3 linked regions of the Homo sapiens genome follow. The protein of the gene in region 1 interacts with the protein of each later gene in a pairwise test. Each region holds a gene or a part of one and is shown on either strand. Other genes may lie near its edges.

What was found. Proteins that work in one complex are often made in the same cells at the same time.
Region 2: the proteins of APOL6 (region 1) and CCN3 interact in binary tests that used the Homo sapiens proteins (3 or more experiments, as listed by UniProt).
Region 3: the proteins of APOL6 (region 1) and LAMTOR3 interact in binary tests that used the Homo sapiens proteins (3 or more experiments, as listed by UniProt).

What each region holds. Positions count from the first base shown.
Region 1 is NC_000022.11:35,650,095-35,658,668, forward strand, and holds part of APOL6 (apolipoprotein L6), read left to right. Parts: intron 1-3,509; exon of another isoform or gene 3,510-3,626; intron 3,627-6,284; 5' UTR 6,285-6,331; coding exon 6,332-6,381; intron 6,382-8,520; coding exon 8,521-8,574. UniProt on the Homo sapiens protein: May affect the movement of lipids in the cytoplasm or allow the binding of lipids to organelles.
Region 2 is NC_000008.11:119,418,588-119,425,650, forward strand, and holds the end of CCN3 (CCN family member 3 precursor), read left to right. Parts: intron 1-543; coding exon 544-758; intron 759-4,248; coding exon 4,249-4,545; 3' UTR 4,546-5,847; downstream 5,848-7,063. UniProt on the Homo sapiens protein: Immediate-early protein playing a role in various cellular processes including proliferation, adhesion, migration, differentiation and survival. Acts by binding to integrins or membrane receptors such as NOTCH1.
Region 3 is NC_000004.12:99,883,712-99,892,285, reverse strand, and holds part of LAMTOR3 (ragulator complex protein LAMTOR3), read left to right. Parts: intron 1-251; coding exon 252-286; intron 287-4,931; coding exon 4,932-4,990; intron 4,991-6,610; coding exon 6,611-6,744; intron 6,745-8,160; coding exon 8,161-8,224; intron 8,225-8,574. UniProt on the Homo sapiens protein: As part of the Ragulator complex it is involved in amino acid sensing and activation of mTORC1, a signaling complex promoting cell growth in response to growth factors, energy levels, and amino acids.

The DNA.
Region 1 (8,574 bases):
AAAATGGGCATCATCTTAGCACCGATCTCACTGGGTCACTGTGTAAAGCAGGTAGATGTATGTCTGGTGAAAGTAAACTCTTAAAGGTGCCAAGCCCCCTAAACCAAACCTAGCTTCACATACCAAAGAGGGGAGAAGGTTTTTATCTTTGAAGCATTCATTCTTTTTCATAGACTACCCCAAAGAAATAACCAAACATGTAGACAGACGTCTATATAAGGATTTTAACCAAAAATTATAAATACAAAATTTTAAAATAACTGAAAACAACCCAAAGGTTCAACAGTGAGAGAGTTATTGAATGTGTAATGATACATTCGTAAAATGAAATGCGACATGGCTTCTATGTATCGCCTGGGGAACTACTAAGATACAATGTTAGGTGACAAGAATTCACACAAACTACATGAACAGCATGCATTTCCATATGGTGAGCGTAAGGTGGATTTTATAATTTATTTCTAAATTTTCAACCTTAAACTTGTATTCATGGCTATAAGTGAATGAATGAATGAATGGCTATAAATGAATGGCTATAAAAATTTGTGTCCTGGGCTGGGCATGGTGGCTCATGCCTGTAATCCCAGCACTTTGGGAGCCCGAGGTGGGTGGATCACCTGAGGTCAGGAGTTCAAGACCAGCCTGGCCAACCTTGTGAAACCCCATCTCTACTAAAAATACAAAAATTAGCCGGGTGTGTTAGTACGTGCCTGTAATCCCAGCTACTTGGTAGGCTGAAGCAGGAGAATCGCTTGAATCTGGGAGGTGGAGGTTGCAGTGAGCCAAGATCATGCCATTGTACTCCAGCCCGGGCAACAAGAGCAAAATTCAGTCTCAAAAAAAAAAAAAAATTTTTTTAAAAATAAAGAATTTGTGTCCCTTCAGAGTGTGTGAGGGAGGATGTTTTTTTCTAACTTTTTAGAAGTGGAAGGGAAGAGGATGAGAGAAGGGAGGATGAGCTGAGGGAGAAGCTATATCTAGGAAACAGCATTTCTGCCGTAAGCGCTGGACCAAGTACCAAATGTAGAGAAGAGATGCAAAGGAATGTATTGGCTTCCCTAGGGCTGCTGTCAGAAAGCACCACAAACCAGGTGGCTTCAAACAACAGACATTTAGTGTCTCACAGTTCTGGAGGCTGGAAGTCAAAAATCCCAGTGCCAGTAGGGCGCACTTCTGCTGCAGGCTCCAGGGAGACCATCTGTGCCTTTTGCAGCCTCGGTGGCTTCTGACAGCACGACTCTAATTTCTGCCTCTGTCTGCGTGCAGCCTTCTTTGCTGTGTCTCTCTCTGTCACCTCCTCTTCTTATAATGACATCAGTGATGGATTTCAGGGCCACCCTGAATCCAGGATAATTTCACCCGGAGAAATGTATACATGTGCCATGTTGGTGTGCTGCACCCATTAACTCATCATTTAACATTAGGTATAACTCCTAATGCTATCCCTCCCCACTCCCCCCACCCCACAACAGGCCCCGGTGTGTGACGTTCCCCTTCCTGTGTCCATGTGTTCTCATTGTTCAATTCCCACCTAGGAGTGAGAACATGCGGTGTTTGGTTTTTTGTCCTTGCGATAGTTTGCTGAGAATGATGGTTTCCAGCTTCATCCATGTCCCTACAAAGGACACGAACTCATCCTTTTTTATGGCTGCATAGTATTCCATGGTGTATATGTGCCACATTTTCTTAATCCAGTCTAGCATTGTTGGACATTTGGCTTGGTTCCAAGTCTTTGCTATTGTGAATAGTGCCGCAATAAACATATGTGTGCATGTGTTTTTATAGAAGCATGTTTTATAATCCTTTGAGTATATACCCAGTAATGGGATGGCTGGGTCAAATGGTATTTCTAGTTCTAGATCCCTGAGGAATCGCCACACTGACTTCCACAATGGTTGAGCTAGTTTACAGTCCAACCAACAGTGTAAAAGTGTTCCTATTTCTCCACATCCTCTCCAGCACCTGTTGTTTGCTGACTTTTTAATGATCGCCATTCTAACTGGTGTGAGATGGTATCTCATTGTGGTTTTGATTTGCATTTCTCTGATGGCCAGTGATGATGAGCATTTTTTCATGTGTCTTTTGGCTGCATAAATGTCTTGTTTTGAGAAGTGTCTGTTCATATCCTTCGCCCACTTTTTGATGGAGTTGTTTGTTTTTTTCTTGTAAATTTGTTTGAGTTCATGTAGATTCTGGATATTAGCCCTTTGTCAGATGAGTAGATTGCAAAAATTTTCTCCCATTCTGTAGGTTGCCTGTTCGCTCTGATGGTAGTTTCTTTTGCTGTGCAGAAACTCTTTAGTTTAATGAGATCCCTTTGTCAATTTTGGCTTTTGTTGCCGTTGCTTTTGGTGTTTTAGACATGAAGTCCTTGCCCATGCCTATGTCCTGAATGATATTGCCTAGGTTTTCTTCTAGGGTTTTTATGGTTTTAGGTCTAACATTTAAGTCTTTAATCCATCTTGAATTAATTTTTGTATAAGGTGTAAGGAAGGGATCCAGTTTCAGCTTTCTGCGTGTGGCTAGCCAGTTTTCCCAGCACCATTTATTAAACAGGGAATCATTTCCCCATTTCTTGTTTTTGTCAGGTTTGTCAAAGATCAGATAGTTGTAGATATGCGGCATTATTTCTGAGGGCTCTGTTCTGTTCCATTGGTCTATATCTCTGTTTTGGTACCAGTACCATGCTGTTTTGGTTACTGTAGCCTTGTAGTATAGTTTGAAGTCAGGTAGCGTGATGTCTCCAGCTTTGTTCTTTTGGCTTAGGATTGACTTGGCAATGTGGGCTCTTTTTTGGTTCCATATGAACTTTAAAGTAGTTTTTTCCAATTCTGTGAAGAAAGTCATTGGTAGCTTGATGGGGATGGCATTGAATCTATAAATTACCTTGGGCAGTATGGCCATTTTCATGATATTGATTCTTCCTACCCATGAGCATGGAATGTTCTTCCATTTGTTTGTATCCTCTTTTGTTTCATTGAGCAGTGGTTTGTAGTTCTCCTTGAAGAAGTCCTTCACATCCCTTGTAAGTTGGATTCCTAGGTATTTTATTCTCTTTGAAGCAATTGTGAATGGGAGTTCACTCATGATTTGGCTCTCTGTTTGTCTGTTATTGGTGTGTAAGAATGCTTGTGATTTTTGCACATTGATTTTGTATCCCGAGACTTTGCTGAAGTTGCCTATCAGCTTAAGGAGATTTTGGGCTGAGACAATGGGGTTTTCTAGATATACAATCATGTCATCTGCAAACAGGGACAATTTGACTTCCTCTTTTCCTAATTGAATGCCCTTTATTTCTTTCTCCTGCCTGATTGCCCTGGCAAGAACTTCCAACGCTATGTTGAATAGGAGTGGTGAGAGAGGGCATCCCTGTCTTGTGCCAGTTTTCAAAGGGAATGCTTCCAGTTTTTGCCCATTCAGTATGATATTGGCTGTGGGTTTGTCATAGATAGCTCTTATTATTTTGAGATACGTGGCAAGGACCTTCTTGCTGTGTTATCCCATGACAGAAGGCAGAAGGCAGAAGGGCAAGAGGGCGTGTGCGAGAGAGGTGAAGGAAGGAGGCTGAACTCTACTACTACCCTCAATACTCACACCAATTTACCTTCTTCTGGTCACCAAAATATGTGAGTTTTTTTCCCTACACCAAGCAATTCTCCACTTCTTTATGAGAACAAACTTGGCATCCTACAGTTTAACTCAATTCTGACACTATCTCCTTGGAGATACTATCAGATCCCCCAGGTTAAGGGCTCAGTCCCATAAGACTGCCCCTACTTCAGACACCAGTTGTAAGTGGTGGGTCCCCAGGTTGCCCACAACTTTTGTCCAACTTGGTGACACATGGAAGGTTTCCACAACTCCCTCCTCAGTTTCAATAATTTGCTAGAACAGCTTGCAAAACTCAGGGAAACACTTATTTACAATGACTAGTTTATTATAAAGGATCCAACTCAAGAATGGCCAGACGGAATTGATGCACAGGGCAAGATATGGGGGAAGAGACATGGAGTTCCCATGCCCTCTCTGGGCACACCACCCTCCAGGTACCTCCATGTGTTCACCAACCCAGAAGCTCTCTGAACCCTGTCCTTTTGGGTTTCTATGGAGGCTTCCTTACACAGGCATGATGGATTAAAGAAACTATGGGCCATTTGTGGTTAACTCAATCTCCCGTCTCTCTCCTCTCCTGGAACTCAAGGGGTAGGGCTGAATATTCCAACCCTCAAATCACATGGTTGTTTCCCCAGACAAGCAGCCCCCCATCCTTGGAGGCTTTCTAAAGTCACCTCATTAACATAAACTCGGGTGTGGCTAAAAGGGGTCGGTTATGGTTAAGAAAAGATGCTCTTTTCACCTTTACTGCTCTCATCGCTCAGGAAATTCCAAGGGTTTTAAGAGCCCTGTGCCAGAAATGGGGATAAGAACTCTCTCTCTCTCTCTCTCTATATATATATATATGTATATATACACACACACACATACACACACATATATATACACACGTATATGTAATTATATATCTATATATAATTATAAATCACAATATCACAACATATTATGTTCTTGGGAATACAATTTGTACAAAGGGGCCTTGTAAATTACTGCTTTGTTTGGTGAAAATGATCCTTTAATCATTACAGTCTATGTGGTCATAATTGTGAGAGAACAGAATAAGCTACCCCCAGATATGCCTCTTTGGCATAGGGATTATTGAGGCGAAGGCAATTAAGAAGCAGCAGATGCAGGAAGGTTCTCTGTCCTCTCTCTATTTGCCTAAAAGCAAGATCTAAATTTACAAAGGTCTTTCTATCAAGGAGAATAAAGGTTAACCACTGAGAACTTTAGACCCTTATAGGCCTGGAGATGGTACCAGAGGAAGCTGCGTAACAAAACTTACTGACTAGTTTCTTTCTATCCTTCATTTCCTATTTATTTGTCTACCCACAATTTGGTGGCCCTCAAGATGCAAAGTCTTTTTTCTTCATCTTGTCCCTTCTCTAAAATTGTATAGTTCTTTGTTGAAGGTGGCTATATAAGCAGGGAGTTCCAAGCCACTCCTTTGAGAATTATTTATTCCCTGGTGTCTCCTACATACACTTAAGAGGTACATATTAATCCACTCCTGTTTGTTTTTCTCTTATGAATCTGTCTTGGGTTACAAGGATCCTAGCTGAGAACTTAGAAGGGCAGAGGGAAAATTATTTTTTCCTCTCTTATAATATCCATCTAAGGAATCACTTACCCAGGTCAAGATGGAGAAAAGGAGATTTCCTTGTACTTCCTCCTCCCAGTCAATAATCGCACTACCCGAGAAGAAACCTCGATTCTGACTTCTACAACCAATTCATTTGCATATTATTGAGTTTCATATAAATGGAGCCATTTGTTTGATTTCTTTCACTCAATAATAATGTCTGTGAAATTATTCCATGTTGTTTGGGTATCAGTAGTTTTCAAAATTGTTATTGCTATGTAATATTTAACTATATAAAAAAACTATAATTTGTTTGTTTATTCTTCTGTTGATTGATGTATTTGAGTTGTTACCAGCCCTTGGCTATGTATGGGAGGAAAAGTAATTTTTTTCTCAACCCTCATAAGTTCTTAGCTGGAACAGACTCCTGTAACCCAAGACACATTAACGAGAGAAAACCAAGCAGAAGCGTATTAACATGTCTATTTCATATGGACATGGGAGAGATCCAGGGATTAAATAATTCTCAAAGAGGTAGCTTTGAATTCCAGCTTCAATACATCTCCAACAATGAACAGTACATTTTTAGAGAAGTAGCAAGACAATGGAAAAGGGTTTTGAGTCTCCAGCAGGAGCAACTTGTGGGAAAGTAAGTCAATGTCATCTTTGGTGATCAAACTTTATCCTTCTTGTTAGTGAGGAGACAAGGGACAGCTTTACCTTTGTCAATTTATGTCTTGCTTTTAGGCAAATAGAGGGAGGGTGGAGAACTTTTCTTGTACCCACTTCTTCTCAATTACATTTGGCTCAAAATAATCCTTATGCCAAAGTGGCATATTTTGGGATGGTGTATACTGCTACCCTCCAATATAGAGGTAAAAATGTATTGAACTGACTATTTCACTGTATGCATTTATTGTATGTAAGCTACACCTCAACATACAATTTTCAAATAATAGTTTGCAAATATTTAGTATGCTATGTGGTTGTTATTTTGATAGTACATAATCCAAAATCCCTCCACACCTGAATTTCATAAGGTTTCATCATATGTGCAGTAACGTTGTTTTTCTACATTCCTGACCAGAAAATCATTTGACTCCTGGGGACACAGATTTGCTGCCACAGAGGCTGATGGACAACCAGGCGGAGAGAGAAAGTGAGGCTGGTGTTGGTTTGCAAAGGTAATCCAAAGGGTGTAGTCCCCAGGGAGAGGGCTGATTCTGTTGAAATGCTGCAGGCATCCTCACGATAAGGAATACATGTGCTCTGATAGGATTAGCTGTTAAGTGGGCCTTATCTTACCGCTGGTCTCCATTATGCATATGAAAATCTGTTCCCCTAGGGAAAAAAATACTTCATGGAGCTAAAGTAAATATTTTGGAGAGCAAGTCAAGATTAAGTCAGGCGCATGGCTTTGGGCAATAGGACTCCAAAGACAAAAATTGCTCCACTCTGGGGCCTCATCTCTGCAACTGTCTTGAAGACAGGAACTCCATTTCTTCAGCTCATATATCACCAAGGAAGGAAGCCATTTGGTGTTAACAAATTAATGAATTTAAGCCCAGTTGTCTGTAAATCAGCAGACGTAGCACCACCGGCCCCCTGCACAATGTGTGCAAGTAACAAATATTTGCTGAGTGAATTAGACGAACTCTATGTGTAATATGTCATGGAACTGGACTGAAATGTTATCCAATGCCAGTAGACATCACCAGCTGATACAGGATTCACTGGAGCAGAGGTGTTCACATGTGAGACGCTTGGTTTAATTAAGAAACACATGAAGTCAAGCTTCTGTTAGTTATCAACCATGCTAAAACCAAAAACTTTACAGTTCATACACAGTGGCGTTGTTGATCTTTGCAGCTACATATCTATTTGCTGTTTCTTTTTGTCTAGCATACCTTGAGGAAACACAGAGATCAGGGTGGGCTAACCTATGGCATCTTTTATGTCTGGGGTTCTTTGTCAGGGCCACCCCGCTTGCCTTCATCCCACCCCTTCCCCATTGCAAGCCCTGGTGACCTTCTGCTCTGTTAACTGATTTACACCTGTGGATTAATAGATAATTGTGCCTAAATTTATTAATTCATTAACACTTAAAACATATGCTCGATGGTATATTTAGTTTCTAATCTTTCCCACTGAGGAATTGTGTGCGTGTGTGTGTGGAAAGAGAGATTTAAAGATAAATACATTTATGGACATACATATACTTCAATGAGGAGGCCCTGACATCAACTGACAGGTGAGAGGAAAGGCAGAAAGCACCAAGTTTAGGACTCAGAGCCCACCCAATGCTCCATCTTTACCTTGCATGTTCCTTTGGGAGTGTCCTCTTTTCTCTCTGGGCTTGAGGCCCCCCACTGAATCATAAAGGAGGTGGCCCAGATCCTCTCCAGGCCTCCCTCCAGCTCTGATGTTCTTCTTTGGGCCAGGGCATCTGTTATCACCAGGCCTCCTCGGCTCACCCTGAAGGAAATGCACAAATGGCACCTTGCATGAGAAAATGCCCCAAGCAGCAGGCTTTGCTCTCACCCTGATGCAGCTCTGCCTTGAAGGTCAAAGCCAACTGGCCTGGCAAAGATCCCTTCGTACTTCATCCTGTAAAATGTTGGAGGAAGAGGGGCCTAGGTCTCTTTGTCCCAAACTTCTTCCATGAAGGACTAATCCCATCTGCTTGAAGGGTCAAGTAAAGCTGACCAAGAGCAAGGAGAGCATTCAGGACATGAATAATAATTTATCTCAACTCTCAATGTGCAACTCCTGATAGAAGCAAAGACACACCCCAGAGTAACCAGATTCGAGGTCATTAGAGTGGAGGATGTATGATGCAATATGGCCCCCTCCACCCTCCTACTCACTTCTACACATCTGGGACGCTCATCCCCTGCCCACCACCTTGTCTTCTCTTTCTCCTACTTTTCCCAGAACTCTCCCGCCATTGTTCCCAAGTTCTTTATCTTGAGTGGGGTTTTAACATTTCCCCACTGCCCCTCCTCTGCAGCAGTGCTGTGCTTTCTCTGAACAAGGCTGAAAACATACCTCAGGACTTAATTTTCCTTCCCCATTCCTTGACCAAGGCTGGGGTGATTCACATTTGTCCTTCCACATGCCCCTCTTATGTGTTTCTTTTTTCCATGGAACCAGTAGTTTTCAGCGAAGGCTGAACTACTCTACAATGCTCTAGGACTTTTCAGGGGATTTTGTAGGGAGGTACAGGGAGGATTCGAAGCTGAGAGTGGCAAGAATATCCAAGAGCCACATGGGTTTTCCCATCTGGGAAGCTGAAGCAAAATCTTTATTTCATTTCTCCTCAGGGATGAGGATGACGCTCCTCTGTGTGAAGACGTGGAGCTACAAGACGGAGATCT
Region 2 (7,063 bases), on another chromosome or scaffold:
TACTTGTATTTTAATCCATCCCACTTGACCCTCATTAGCACTACAAAGACAAAATTTTAAATTCTCTTTCTTTTCTGGATTCTGTACACTACCTAGGCCGTCTCATGATTAACCTCCTTAAAGAAGGCTACTCATCCCTGCACAGGTGTCACTGAAAAGTGTCATCTTTCTAGATGCTGTAGTAAGGCTCAGATGGCACTTCAGGACCTTTTTTTATTCTTATTTTTGTTTTCTCTTATCAATGAAATAGTTTAAATAAAAAATCTCAAGAGACAATAGAGGATTATTTTAGAAGCCATTAATTAGCCAGATTACTTATATTAGCAGTATCCGGAATTGTATACTATTTCTGAGGGCAGACATTATCAGCCATGCCAGAAATAAATAAATAGATAAATAAATTCAGTTCTGTGTCCTGGGAGCATGGGTGTTTAGTAGGTACAGAGTCGAATGAGACCCAGTTTCTAATAATGGCTGAAAAGGACCACTTTCCAATCCTCACATTGTACCTAATATGGCTGTCTTTATTTATACATCCCATAGCTTACAGGCCAGAAGCCACCCTAGGAGTAGAAGTCTCTGACTCAAGTGTCAACTGCATTGAACAGACCACAGAGTGGACAGCATGCTCCAAGAGCTGTGGTATGGGGTTCTCCACCCGGGTCACCAATAGGAACCGTCAATGTGAGATGCTGAAACAGACTCGGCTCTGCATGGTGCGGCCCTGTGAACAAGAGCCAGAGCAGCCAACAGATAAGGTAGGAGCCTGGAGGAAACCTCCCATCCTGAAGGTAATGGCCTTGTGTCCTTGGAGCCTGGGCTTCAGAAAGTCACTGTGTCACTCTGTGACGGAGAGAGCAGCTATAGCGGGGAGTTAACCCCAGAGAAAAGGCAGTGGGGTTCTTGAAGCCAGCCTATCTTCTTTTTTCTCTTTAACATATTGAAATACTCTAAGCAACTCACAGTACACCCTCAGGTAAAGAGGGAGAGGGACCGGAAAACTATAATGCTTTTCCCAATAGAGAATGGTCTAGCAAATCCCATTCCATTCCTGGAGAAAACTGGCTACAGTTGTCAAGCACAGCTGATTCTAAAGAGGTCACTTCTGACCTCAGTTCTCTTTATTCGTCAGGTTCTGTATGTATGGGTAGAGGCCATGTGGGTCTTACCTCTCAGTCCTCAGCTTTCTACCTGGCAGATATTGTGTGCGTGATAAACAACTGTTGATAAATAAGCGAGTGACTGTCTGGGAATTATTGTTGGTATTTTTAAAAACCTAGTGGAAATAATACATTTGCCAGCATAAAGCAATATGGGCCAAATAAAACAGCACATATCTTTTTATTTTTTTTTTGTTGGAATTACATCAACTCAGTATGTTAACACTGAATGTGAGACGTGCAGTTCAGAAGCTCTGATTGGTTGCTGATGACATCACAGGCCTTGTTACCAGAGCCCTATATCAGAAAAATGCAATACCCAATTTGAACCATTATATGGATCCTTATACAAACCTAAGACTAAAATAAAACAGCCCTTAGCAATTCAAGATTTACATATCTTGACACTGAAGCAATATCATCTAATGCGTAAGAGGACAACTGTGGAGCCAGACAGCTTGGCTTCAAATTCTGTCTTTCCACATGAACCAGCTATGTAATCTTGGGCAATTTTCTTAACCTCTCAGCCTCAATTCCTTCTCCCACATAATGGGGCGGCTGAAAGTACCTACCTTAACTTGTCACGATGATTACATAGAATGAATTTGCAAAATGCTGGGTATAGATTAAGTACTCTGTTAACAGTAGCCACCATTACTTATGATTTCTATTTACTGGTAAAATAAGAGTCCCTAGTGGTTGCATTAGTTATATGGCTGCTTAGCTATATAATTTTTGGAAGTCCATCCTAACTTTACTTTTCTTCCACCAGTTTAGAAAGAACACCTAGAAACACCTTATCCCTAAAATTATATCCTAGGAGATGCACTTCCCCACGCTCAGAGGAATTCAAACATATATCTAACATAGTCATATAGGTTCACCCACATAAGCAGTCTCACATACAAACACATACACACACATAGGAATGTTGTTATCCTGTACCATTTTGTGGGTGTTGACAAGAATACACGCTAAATATTAAATTGAAAAAGTAAGAAGAAGTCCTTAAATATTTTCAATAGCACAGCAACTTCTTTATTAAACAAGATGTTTCCATTTAATGCCTCTAAGATGTGGCTTTTTCTATTGTGTCATTTTGCAAAATTTGTATTTTTTCTTGTAACTTGAATCTTCTTTAATATTTGGATATGTTATTTTAAAGATGGTTATTTATAGTATACATATTTTATAAAAATTGTACTAGTATAACAATCATTACTTCCTTGTCTCCAAGAGATTCTTAAATCTAAGACAGTGGTTCTTTTTTTTTTTTTTTTTTTTTTTTTGAGACGGAGTCTTGCTCTGTCACCCAAGCTGGAGTGCAGTGGCACAATCTTGGCTCACCGCAAGCTCCGCCTCCCGGGTTCACGCTATTCTCCTGCCTCAGCCTCCTCAGTAGCTGGGATTACAGACGCCCTCCACCATTTTTTTGTATTTTTTAGTAGAGACGGGGTTTCACCATGTTAGCCAGGATGATCTTGATCTCCTGACCTTGTGATCTGCCCGCCTCGGCCTCCCAAAGTGCTGGGATTACCGGCCTGAGCCACCGCGCCCGGCCGACAGTGGTTCTTAAAGGGTGGTCCCCAAACCAGCAGCATCATCTAAGAAGTTGTTAAAATGTAAATTTGTGGTGTGGGTCCCACATCGGATGTACTGAATCCAAAACTCAGGGTGTGAGGTCTGACAGCTTGTTTTAAGAAATCCTCTAGATGATTTTGATGTGCACTGAAGTTTGAGAGCCACTGATTTAAGATAATTCCAAGTCTAATCACCCCACAAGCTGTGGGTCATGCCTATGAAGGTGAACAGTGGATAACTGTAGGAAATTAGTAGATTAAGAAATATAAGTAAGAAATAAAATATAGCCAATTCTTTGCTGAATTATCAACATTGGGCCTCTTCATTTATCATTACTAATACAATCTTGAAAACATTCTCCACTTTATTTGCCTCCATGCAAATTCCATGTCTTGGAATTTCCTGGGTTCATCACGTAATAGAAAGAATGGGCTTTGTACAGACAAATTCAAATATTAGATGTTTTCTGATCCCTTTAGGTCTTTGAGACTCAGTTTCTTCATCTGTAAAACTTGGGCAATTGTTCTTTCTATGAATGATTATTTCTTGTATGAATGAACACTGTTAATAAGGTTGAGTTAATGTTTGAAGAGTATTTGAAACATAAAATAATGCCAGATTTATAAACATTCTTTTTATAACATGTTGTATTAGTCCATTTTCAAACTGCTATGAAGAACTACCCAAGACTGAGTAATTTATAAAGAAAAGATGTGTAATTGCCTTACAGTTACACATGGCTGGGGAAACTTCAGGAAACTTACAATCATGGCAGTAGGTGAAGGGGAAACAAAACACATCTTACATGGCAGCAGGACAGAGAGAGACAGAGAGAGAGAGAGAAAGAGAGAGAGAAAGGCAGAAAGAGAGAGAGAGAGACAGTGAGAGGGGAAGTGCCACACTTTTAAACCATCAGATCTTGTGAGAACTCACTATCACGAGAACAGCAAGGGAAAAATCTGCCCCCATGATCTAATTACCTCCCACCAGGCCCCTCCTCTGACACGTGGTGATTACAATATGAGAAGAGATTTGGGTATGAACACAGAGAACCAAACTGTATCACGTGTAAAAATCCATTTGGCTAAAAATGACACCAAAGCATGTTACAGTGTCTTAAAAGATAGGTTTTGTTATGCTTTCACCTGCATGCTCATCTCCTCAATGTCAAAAGACCATTATGTACAATTAGGCAAGGTGTTTACATTCCAGGAAGAAAGGAAAATGAATACAGGAACAATAAAGAATTGTACCTACTCAAAGGGCAAAGAATTTCCCAGATTCTCTTGGCCAGAACTTTGCCACAAGGTTATCCCAAGTCCCACATAGTCTGTGGAAGCAAATACTTTTAGCTGACTACATTGCTCAAGCAAAATTAATGTTCTGATAGCAAAGAAGAAAGACCAATAGATATTGGGTGGGCAACTAGCAGGTAATTCCATACTCTAAAATTGTCCCTCAGGGGAATGGTAGCCATTCAATACATCACTTCTTTTTTCTTTCTTAGAAAGGAAAAAAGTGTCTCCGCACCAAGAAGTCACTCAAAGCCATCCACCTGCAGTTCAAGAACTGCACCAGCCTGCACACCTACAAGCCCAGGTTCTGTGGGGTCTGCAGTGATGGCCGCTGCTGCACTCCCCACAATACCAAAACCATCCAGGCAGAGTTTCAGTGCTCCCCAGGGCAAATAGTCAAGAAGCCAGTGATGGTCATTGGGACCTGCACCTGTCACACCAACTGTCCTAAGAACAATGAGGCCTTCCTCCAGGAGCTGGAGCTGAAGACTACCAGAGGGAAAATGTAACCTGTCACTCAAGAAGCACACCTACAGAGCACCTGTAGCTGCTGCGCCACCCACCATCAAAGGAATATAAGAAAAGTAATGAAGAATCACGATTTCATCCTTGAATCCTATGTATTTTCCTAATGTGATCATATGAGGACCTTTATATCTGTCTTTTATTTAACAAAAAATGTAATTAACTGTAAACTTGGAATCAAGGTAAGCTCAGGATATGGCTTAGGAATGACTTACTTTCCTGTGGTTTTATTACAAATGCAAATTTCTATAAATTTAAGAAAACAAGTATATAATTTACTTTGTAGACTGTTTCACATTGCACTCATCATATTTTGTTGTGCACTAGTGCAATTCCAAGAAAATATCACTGTAATGAGTCAGTGAAGTCTAGAATCATACTTAACATTTCATTGTACAAGTATTACAACCATATATTGAGGTTCATTGGGAAGATTCTCTATTGGCTCCCTTTTTGGGTAAACCAGCTCTGAACTTCCAAGCTCCAAATCCAAGGAAACATGCAGCTCTTCAACATGACATCCAGAGATGACTATTACTTTTCTGTTTAGTTTTACACTAGGAAACGTGTTGTATCTACAGTAATGAAATGTTTACTAAGTGGACTGGTGTCATAAACTTTCTCCATTTAAGACACATTGACTCCTTTCCAATAGAAAGAAACTAAACAGAAAACTCCCAATACAAAGATGACTGGTCCCTCATAGCCCTCAGACATTTATATATTGGAAGCTGCTGAGGCCCCCAAGTTTTTTAATTAAGCAGAAACAGCATATTAGCAGGGATTCTCTCATCTAACTGATGAGTAAACTGAGGCCCAAAGCACTTGCTTACATCCTCTGATAGCTGTTTCAAATGTGCATTTTGTGGAATTTTGAGAAAAATAGAGCAAAATCAACATGACTGGTGGTGAGAGACCACACATTTTATGAGAGTTTGGAATTATTGTAGACATGCCCAAAACTTATCCTTGGGCCATAATTATGAAAACTCATGATCAAGATATATGTGTATACATACATGTATCTGGTTTGTCAGGCTACAAGGTAGGCTGCAAAATTAAATCTAGACATTCTTTTAATGCCACCACACGTGTTCCGCTTCTCTCTTTTAAAGTATTTATAAAAATATAAATTGTACATTTTGTAAAATATTATGTTTGATTTCTCTACTTGTCATATCACTAAATAAACACGATTTTATTGCTGCGTGACTCTGTATTACTTTGGTGCATAAAAGTTGAACATTGTTGTTTACTGAAAATAAAATTAAAATTTATGAATTAAATGAGACATCAATCAATAGCATCTATTGAAAGCAAAATGAGTATTTCTGGATGAGCTTACAACTTCTTATCAGAAGGGAAACAAAAGACAACTCAGTATTCCTGAGTTAGATGTTCCTCACCATCACAGCCTCAACTAGCCTCCACACTACTTACCCAGACCCTCATCTCAAGCCCTGATCTTTTTTTTTCTGGACAGCCCGCTAGACACCTCTGTATATTGAAATTTAAACTTGTTATCTGACCAAACAAAATTCAGCTCTGTGGCTTCCTCATCTAATCAAAGGGCATCCCATCCTCCCAATTGCACGGCTTAAATGGCCAGCACTTTCTTGATCAGTATTATCTTGCCAAGTACCCAGAAAAGCATATTTCCATTGATCATGGGGAATTGCGTGACAAACTGGGCTGCACACTGGGCAGAGTCACAGTTAATAGAAGTTTTGTGTTTGGAAGCTTCTTGCTGATGCAGTGTGGCTCTCAAGTTCTATAATTTGTAAGGAAAAATCTTTTCAAAAGAGTTTTACTATTACCAACTTCACTTCCTGGGTCTGCCCCCTCCTTTCTGCACCTCTCTTTAGCTAGTTTCTGTTTGTCCTTTAAGATGGATTAGAAAGCAACTTTGCCTTCTAGGAGTTTATTCACACGAAATTATCAAGGACAGCAAACATTTATTGCACAACAGCATTGTGCTGAGAGCTGTACTTGCATTATATTGTTTAATTGGCACAATAGTCCTATGAAGTAGGCATTCTTCATGTACCCATGTTATGGATGAGGAAACCAAAAAAAAAAAAATGTTAAAAGAAACTGGTGGATCTAGAATTCAAACCAAAGTCCTTTTACTTTCTACTTGCTAACATATGGATCCTGGCAAAGATGATCTATCTTCAGACTGTTCTACCATGTGTTGTTCATAAAGGCAAAAAAAAAAATAGAAACAAAGATTCCACAGTGTAGATCTGGCTACATTAATTATAGTATACCCGTTAGGATGAAAAACAAAGCAATCTTCAAACTGAGAATATAAGAAAAGATATCCGAAAATATACCACAGAATGGCATGAAACTAGGAAAAGAGTGATTTGGTTTTGTTCAAAAGTATCTATGAACATGAATCAAAAGAGACCTAGGACAGAACGTGTAACAAAATCTGATTAGTGATTTAGACTAACGTCAGACTAGTCTCATTTTTGTTCTTTTCTGTCATTTCTTTAC
Region 3 (8,574 bases), on another chromosome or scaffold:
AACACTTTTATGATGTAGGTTCTATATTAGCCCTATTCAACAAATAATGAAATAAGCTTAGCGAAAAAAGGTTGGTTAACTTACTCCAAGTTGCGTGACTAGTAAACATCCAAATCAGACAGAGAAAGATAAAACACAGCAAGAAAGGTTATGAATGATAACTGAAGTTCCTTAAAATTTGGATAGGACAGGATCTAGAAAACAGTGGAAGGCCTATTATTACAACATTATTTTTTAATGCTCTCTTTCAGGACCTAAAGCGATTCTTGTATAAAAAGTTACCAAGGTAAGAAATTTTTAATTTGTTATTGAATAAATTCTATATGCCATATGTTAATTTTATGAAGCATTTTGTCTGTATTTTCCATGTTGTGAAGTATCTCTGAGATTTCCTTTAATATGAATATTTTTTGCCAGCCTCACGTCCTCTGGAAAATTTTCGTCACAACCGCTTTCCTCATTTATGTCAATAAGTTTGCCTTCACTGAGTTCTCTGTGTATCTAGAGCGATAGTGTCAGCATTCCCTTGGTCATCTGTTTCTTCTATAATTCTTTACTTTCTATTTGAAATTCAGCATTTCTATTTGAAATTTCAGCATTATTACTTTTCATTTCTTTGCTGTATTTCGTCTTTGTTGGCCAGTTTCCTCTTTTTATTATCTCTTTTTCTAAATGTCACATACTTTATCATTGGGAGACAAGGAGGTACAAAACTACATGCTTTGCTATCTCTGCATGAGCTGCATAACAGATGCACAGTGACCAACCATCAACATACTTTGAAAGAAATGATGTGGCTGGTTACTGATGACAGTGTGCATCTGTTAATTACATAATTATTTATGTAGTGATTTGTGGACTAAAGAGTTAGAAAAGTTTATACTTTACGTAGTTATTGAGGTATTATGCCATGCTAACTAAAATTTGACCTGTGCTCTTCTGCAGGGAGTGGTATTACTTAACCATAGTAACTAAAATGTGCATATTGGAACTATGCAAAATGAGGGCTTTCTGTGTTTTTCTGTAGTTACCTTAGCGTAATGAAAGGGCGCTCAAATTGGGACGGAGAGATACCCCACTACGCTGGTGATATGATGAAATAGTTAATAGTACATAGTTAATTCACTTAGAAGTCTTAGTGATTTACAGTCCTCTTTTGAGTGTTAGCATCTCTTATTGAAGAAACAGCAAAATTGCATTCAATGTTCTTAAGTTATAAACCGACCAGAAAGATACTCATTAGTCACCTGGAGATCTAATAAAGCAATAATTGATTCTAATTACATCATCTGTGATTATAAGCAATAAAAATGTTTCAGACAATGGGGATCTCATTTTAACTATTAAGTGTGCTCTCAAAATCATAATAGCGTGTGACACTGGATATGATGAAGCTGTCTGTGTAAAGGAATTAGAGAATAATACCAAAAGTATTTATTATATTACTGAGTAGTTCTAATGTTGATCAAAAATAGTTGGAAAGTAAATGCTTGCTTCTTCTTTGAATTTAGATGTCTCTTATCTTTTAACAAAAGGGGAAATATCAGGTTGTTGTGCTTATCCAAGAAATAAATTCAGTTAAAGGATATTTGTTAAAAGCTTTATGAAAATCTTTCATAATGGCAGGAAAGGTATTAGTACTGTCAGTTTTTTTTTTAATAATGAAAAAAAGCCAGTTCAACTCATTATATCATTTATTGAAAATAGGCTTATTGCATCCCAGAACAGTAATAATGAAGAAATAATAATGTTTTGAACATTTATGAAGAATAGTAGAATATACGCTTTGATTTGTTGCTAGATGTATGGGTTTGGATGCAGGCATCCTGCTTCAGAGCCATGGATTCATGCTTTTAACTGTTGTACCTCAGTGCCTCTCAGTAACAAAGTCAGCCAGCTACGGATACTAATGGAATGTGTGTTTTTGTGCGTTTTTTGAATTCTCTGCAAAATATCGTTCTTGTATTTGCAATTTAAAATCTGGTTGTGACCCAAAGCAGTCTCAGGCTTTAATAATCCCACTTTGTATGTTTTAAAACAACCAAATATTTCATAATTATGTGTATAAAACTAAATCCGATGTCTTTGATTAGTAATGCAACATTTGTTTTTAGAAAAAAATGGTTGTTTTAGTAAGCTTAAGGTTTAGATTTCTTCAGAATATTTCACAAAATTTAATTCATTTCTTCTAAAAGTGTAGTATCTCTTAATGAGCCAGTTATTTTTAATTATTAGTAAATTCTATTTATATTACTCTTTGCGCATTGTATGTAGAATTGAAAACAGCTTTTATATTTGTGACCTGATTTCTAAAATTATATACTTAAGAGTGTAAGTAATTTTTCTACTTTCTTGATTCATTTCTCTGTGAAGTCCATCAAAAAGAAAGTCCTTTTATTTTCTTTGGAGCATTAGTTGTATTTAAAGTAATTTCCATGGAAATTTAAAAAAAGAAGCTACCTGTGGTGGCACTAATTTTTCTAAACATTTTTGTGGTCCTCTTTTTACCTGCTTTTTAATTTATTTTGGGGGTAAGTAGTACATTCACAGAGTTCAGATTCAAGACTTAACTGAAGAACATAGAGTGAGAAGCTGCCCATCCTTCCTCTCCAGCCACATGCACAGTTTCCCCTCAAAGAGGCACCCACCATTACCTACAGAGATATTTTATGTACCTATGAGCAGACATGTATATACACGTATTTATACACACAACATACACATATGCCTGCATATTTTGGTACATAATTTATTGCTTCTTCTATACACTGTTCTAAACTGTGTATTTTTTCACTTAAGAATGTAACTTTGAGAGTAATCTTTCCTGGTACATAGAGAACTTCCTCTTTCTCATGGCTGCAGAGTATTCCAGAGTATTCCTTTGTAGGTGTATATCATAACTTACCTTGTCCTTCTTGATGGACAGTTGGATTTGTAATGCTTTACTGTTTCAAATGATGTTGCTTTTGGTAACTGCACAAAATAATTGGCTTATGTACAAATATCTGTAGTATATGTTTTATATAACCTAGTTTTTAACTTAGAAGAATATATTTATTTTATGTATTAATCTTTTTGTTGTTGTTGTTGAGACAGACTCTCGTTCTGTCACCCAGGCTGGGAGTGCAGTGGCGCAATCTTGGCTCACTGCAACCCAGGTTCAATCGATTCTTATGCCTCAGTCTCCCAAGTAGCTGGGATTACAGACAAGCACCACCACACCCAGCTAATTTTTGTGTTTTTGGCTGAGACGGGGTTTCATCATGTTGGCCAGGCTGGTCTCAAACTCCTGACCTCAGGTGATCTGCCCACCTTGGCCTCCCAAATTGCTGGGATTACAGGCGTCAGCCACTGTGCCCGGCCTATGTTATGTATTAATCTTAGAGATATATTTTAATCTATAAATAAGTTTAGGATTGAATGATTAGGAAATCATGCCAATAATAGGATAAAAATAGTATAAAAGTCATTTATAAAGTTATTTTATTCTTATTTTTAATGTAAGGAAGACAAATGATTTTGTTTGTAACATTTTCCATTCATATTTAATAACACTTTTCTGACTTAAAAGTTTTTGACAATGGGATTTTAAAAAATTTAATGTCAGTATTTAAACATTAGGTTAATATAAGTATTTCTTATTCCTTAGTTAATACATTAAAGTTAACACAAAGAATAGATCATTCCGGGTTGCTGTAGGGACATTGAACATATCTCTGAGTTGTAGTTTATAGATACCATAAGATAGTTACAGGACTATAAGATTTATGTTAACAATGAAAGGGTTTTGCATAAATGTTGAAAGTCGAGGAGTGTCACCTTATATTTTTTAACACAGTATATTTGTGCTCTACCATATGTTTCTTAATTGCTAATTTCCCAGGGATTCTCACTGATAACTTAGTACTTTAGTGATAAATTATGTCATTGTCAGTGTGCACAATTGACACCACTGGTATTAGTTAATAAGTGATATTTTTGAATTATGTGCCAGCCTACACTTTACATGCCTTGTATTATTAAATTTCACAGTATCTAAGTAAGTACAGTTATTCCCATTTTCAAATTGTTAATCTGAGGCTTGTAAAGGTTTCATAACTAGCCCAAGATAGCATAAATAATAAGTGGCAGAGCCTGGACTGGAACCCAGATCTTTCTAACTTTAGAGCTATAGCTTGACCGTTCTGCTTACTACTTCTTACGTAAGCATGGCTGAAAGGATTACTGCATAGCCTGCATTCCTTTTGCCCTGTTTCTTCAGCCAGGAACAGTTTTTCCACGTCTTTTCACTTAGTGCCATAACGTCTCAGCTGATGTATTACTGCCTCCAGGAAAGCCTTCTCTGGCCCACTGTCTGTCTGCATCAGCCTCCTCTTTTCTAGGTTCTCATATCCCTATGAACTTTTTAACAACACTTGCCACCAGTTTTAGTTTTACGTTTGTTATTGTGAGATTATTTTATTGGTAACACATTCACTTTTTACATTGGAAGCCATGTGAAGGCAATGATTGTGCTTATTTCTGTTTTTCATAGTATCAAAGTATTAAGTGCCACAAATACTGGCCGCTTAATATTTGCATGAATGAAAAAGGAAAAAGGCTGTTTTTTGTCACTATAGCCCCTGCTGATAATCTTTCATGCTTTTGTGTACCATGGACTGATCATTCATTAGTAGTTTTAATGGAGAGTTATCTATGTCTTAGATTCTTATTAATAAACTGCATGAACTTGTAAATATTATAAACATTTCTATAATACACATTGATTCAATTTCTGGGAGAATTTTGGGGTCTGTGGTTTTTCAGAAAATACATGAGAATTATTATGTCTTTGAGGTGCATAGTTTGAGAAAATGAAATATTTTATATTTTAACTTTTTAAAATTTTATATTTTAACTTTTTTTATATTTTAACTATTTTCTTTTTCTAGTGTTGAAGGGCTCCATGCCATTGTTGTGTCAGATAGAGATGGAGTACCTGTTATTAAAGGTAAAACTGAACATTTAAATGCAAATGTCTTCTTTGCTTTTGACTAAAAATGTGTGTAATTTACATCTGAGTAGTACAGCAGGCAAACATAAAATTCATTTTAGTAAATTTGGGAGATGGTCTTAGTATTGGGGAAAGTGTTTGCTTTTGTATGTTGAAGGTTGAATTTGAATCTACAATGTATTATATATCACATGTATCATATTAACATCTAGAGTTTAAGCATGGATTTATCACAGACCCATTTCCCATTAAAGACATTTACAGTGTAACGTAAACCATTAGTAAATCTAAGTGATGAGAGTGAGCATGTATTCAGCTAGATATACACACAGACACCCCTACTATATATATATGTGTGTGTGTATATATATACATACCACACACACATTTTATCAAATTGCTAGTTGTTTTAGGATAATACCCATGTATTTGGATCATAAGTAAACATGATGTCACAGAGAGTCAGTATGGATTCAGACAATTTTTACTATTTCTATATTATGGTATTATGAGAATGGATGTTCCTAGTTTTATTGGGACACTATAGTGGCTTTATCAAAGATTAAAGATTGGATAATGTTCTGTATATTTTGTTTACAATTTTCCACCTGGAGTTGTCATATATATCAGATAATTTTAGACTTTAGAAATGAAAGGAGGTTTAGAAGTCAACTAATGTAGTTCTTTCATTTTATAAGTGAAGGTGATAAAGTGCAAAGACACTTGGACTTCTTAGCAGTTTTAATGGAGAGTTAGCTATGTCTTAGATTCTTATTAATAAACTGCATGAATTTGTAAAGATTATAAACATTTCTGTAATACACATTGATTCCATTTCTGGGAGAATTTTGGCAAACACATTATAAGAACAAAGGAGGTCCTGTGGTTTATAATCTTCGGACATTGCCGTCCAAAGTCGGACATGAGTCAGTAACAAAACAGTAATAGAACCCATAATCTCCTGATGTGTGGTCCAGTGTGCTTTCTAACCCACTATAAAATGGCTGTTGAATGGCTGTGGACAGATTGCTTGCCTTCTCTTAATTCCGTAATGAGGGATTTGAACAAAATAATCTCAGATTTTCCAGCTCTAATATTCTTCATGAGGATCTCTGTGTTAAAGCCTTGAGCCCTGCACTCATTAATATAACAAACTCCATGCAAACCTTTTAATGAGTGAGAGAAACATGAAACAGGTAACCAGCTGCAGATTGTTAATATCTATGAGAGATACTGCTGCTGTGGGTTTTATAAGAGCAGAAGTTTTGTAACTTTTTTCATTAGTTTATTCTAGCCTAGTCCTCAGATAACCAGTTAAATGTACTTGATTAATCTGTTTTAAGTTAGATATCAAGAAAATGTAAACATTTAGTTTTCTTTTTAAAATTTAAAAAAATTGTGAGAGTCAGCATTTTTTCTCTTACTTGTGATCAGTGAACTTTTGATTGAGCAGTTTTTCCTGATTAGTGATGAGACCCCATTAGTGATATGATTTTCAATATTGTGAAACATAACCTTTGTGTTCAATTTTAAAAAGAGGTTTATGAAAAAAAAGGGCTGTAAATCTCTCTACCATATCCTCTGCATAATTTTTATTTAAATCACTTATTTTTCTAGTGGCAAATGACAATGCTCCAGAGCATGCTTTGCGACCTGGTTTCTTATCCACTTTTGCCCTTGCAACAGACCAAGGAAGCAAACTTGGACTTTCCAAAAATAAAAGTATCATCTGTTACTATAACACCTACCAGGTAAGTTCATAATTATAAAATGATTTGCTGATTTCAGTTGTCATTTTTGTGCCTTTTATATATATAAAATAGTTTGTGTTATAGTTCTCAATTTTAGTTTTGAAGAGGATGAAATTGTAAAATTTTAGCCTTCAAATTGGTTGTATTAAAATGTAGTAATTTTCTTCACATTTCATACCAGGAAATAATTACTATGGAAAAGTAATTAAGTGATTTAATAAAGTACATGTTATCCTAAAAAGAGTATGTCAGGTCACTGTTACCTCCAGTAGATGGTGCCGTTAGCTAAACAACTGTGATTTCTCAGCTGACACACTTTTTTTGTTGTAGTAACAGATAAAAAAAACTTTCCTTGAAAGTTTATTAAATTTGCTCTTGCTGCTAATTCCTTCATTTTTTGGAAATATATATATGTAATAAATGAGATTATTATTTGTGGGAAAGAAGTTAGTTTTTAGTTTTTGCATGTCTCTTGATCTCAAGCTACATTTTCTTAAGACTAAATTAATTCCTTGTGCTTTAGAGCGATGTTTCCTAATCAATTGATGTAAGTTACTCTTTTTTTTTTTTTCTTCCAAGACAGAGTCTGGCTCTGTTGCCCCATGCTGGAGTGCAGTGGCATGATCTCAGCTCACTGCAGCCTCCGCCTCTCAGGTTCAAGTGATTCTCACGCCTCAGCCTCCCAAGTAGCTGGGATTACAGGCATGTGCCACCAGGCCTGGCTAATTTTTGTATTTTTGGTAGAGACGGACTTTCACCATGTTGGCCAGGCTGGTCTTGAACTCTTGGCCTCAAGTGATCCATCCACCTCAGCCTCCCAGAGTGCTGGGATTACAGATGTGAGCCACCGTGCCAGGCCCATCTTTTATTTTAAAAGTTATATATTTTAATGTGTATTAAGTAAAAGATAACCAAACCATCTGACCTTTAATTTCATCAATAAGGATTAGGTTTAAACTAAGTTTTCTTTTTTTTTGAAGGTAGTTGATTTAAAGTTACTTTAAATTTAATTTAAATTACAGTAATACACAAGAACCAGAAAATATCATGAAGATAAAACTACTTGAATAACTGAGAAATACTGCATTTATCCATTTAATTATCAACTATTTATTAAGTCCTTACAATGTAATTGATATTCTGTTGGGCTTTAGAGATAAAAAGATGAAGATATGGTTTCACCTTAAAAACTTTCCAGGCCAAATGGTATTAATGTCTCTAAGAGATCATCACTAATTCTGTTTTATGGAAATATTCACTGAAATATAAAGTTCCTTTCTGTTTCATAATATAATACCATAATGTTGGGCTAAAACATTGATGATTTTAAAGTTTTTGAAAGATTAAGACATTTCAGTTTAGTTATACTACCTTTTCATAATGCAACATATTATTTGGCTCTTATTTTCTTTTTAGGTGGTTCAATTTAATCGTTTACCTTTGGTGGTGAGTTTCATAGCCAGCAGCAGTGCCAATACAGGTGTGTTTAATGACCTTAAATATCACTTTAATCCTTAATTTTAAAAAATTAATTTAATTACCATACCTTAATTTAAGAGGAATAGTAGATTTAGAGCCAAAAATCTTGAACTTGTGGCCCAGTTTCACTGTCTTTTTTCCATGTCTTGGGAAAAGTGATTTCTCTGAATCCTGGTTTCCATATCTGTATAATGGAGATAATATATGCTTTCTCCATCTTACAATGTTATTTTCTAGTTCAAATGAGACAGTGTATGGGTAAGTGATTTTTTTTTTTTTTTTTTGGAGACAGGAAAATTAAATGTTATCTGAGTGCTACATCTTGCTCCCATTACAGCAGTTTAAGAAAAC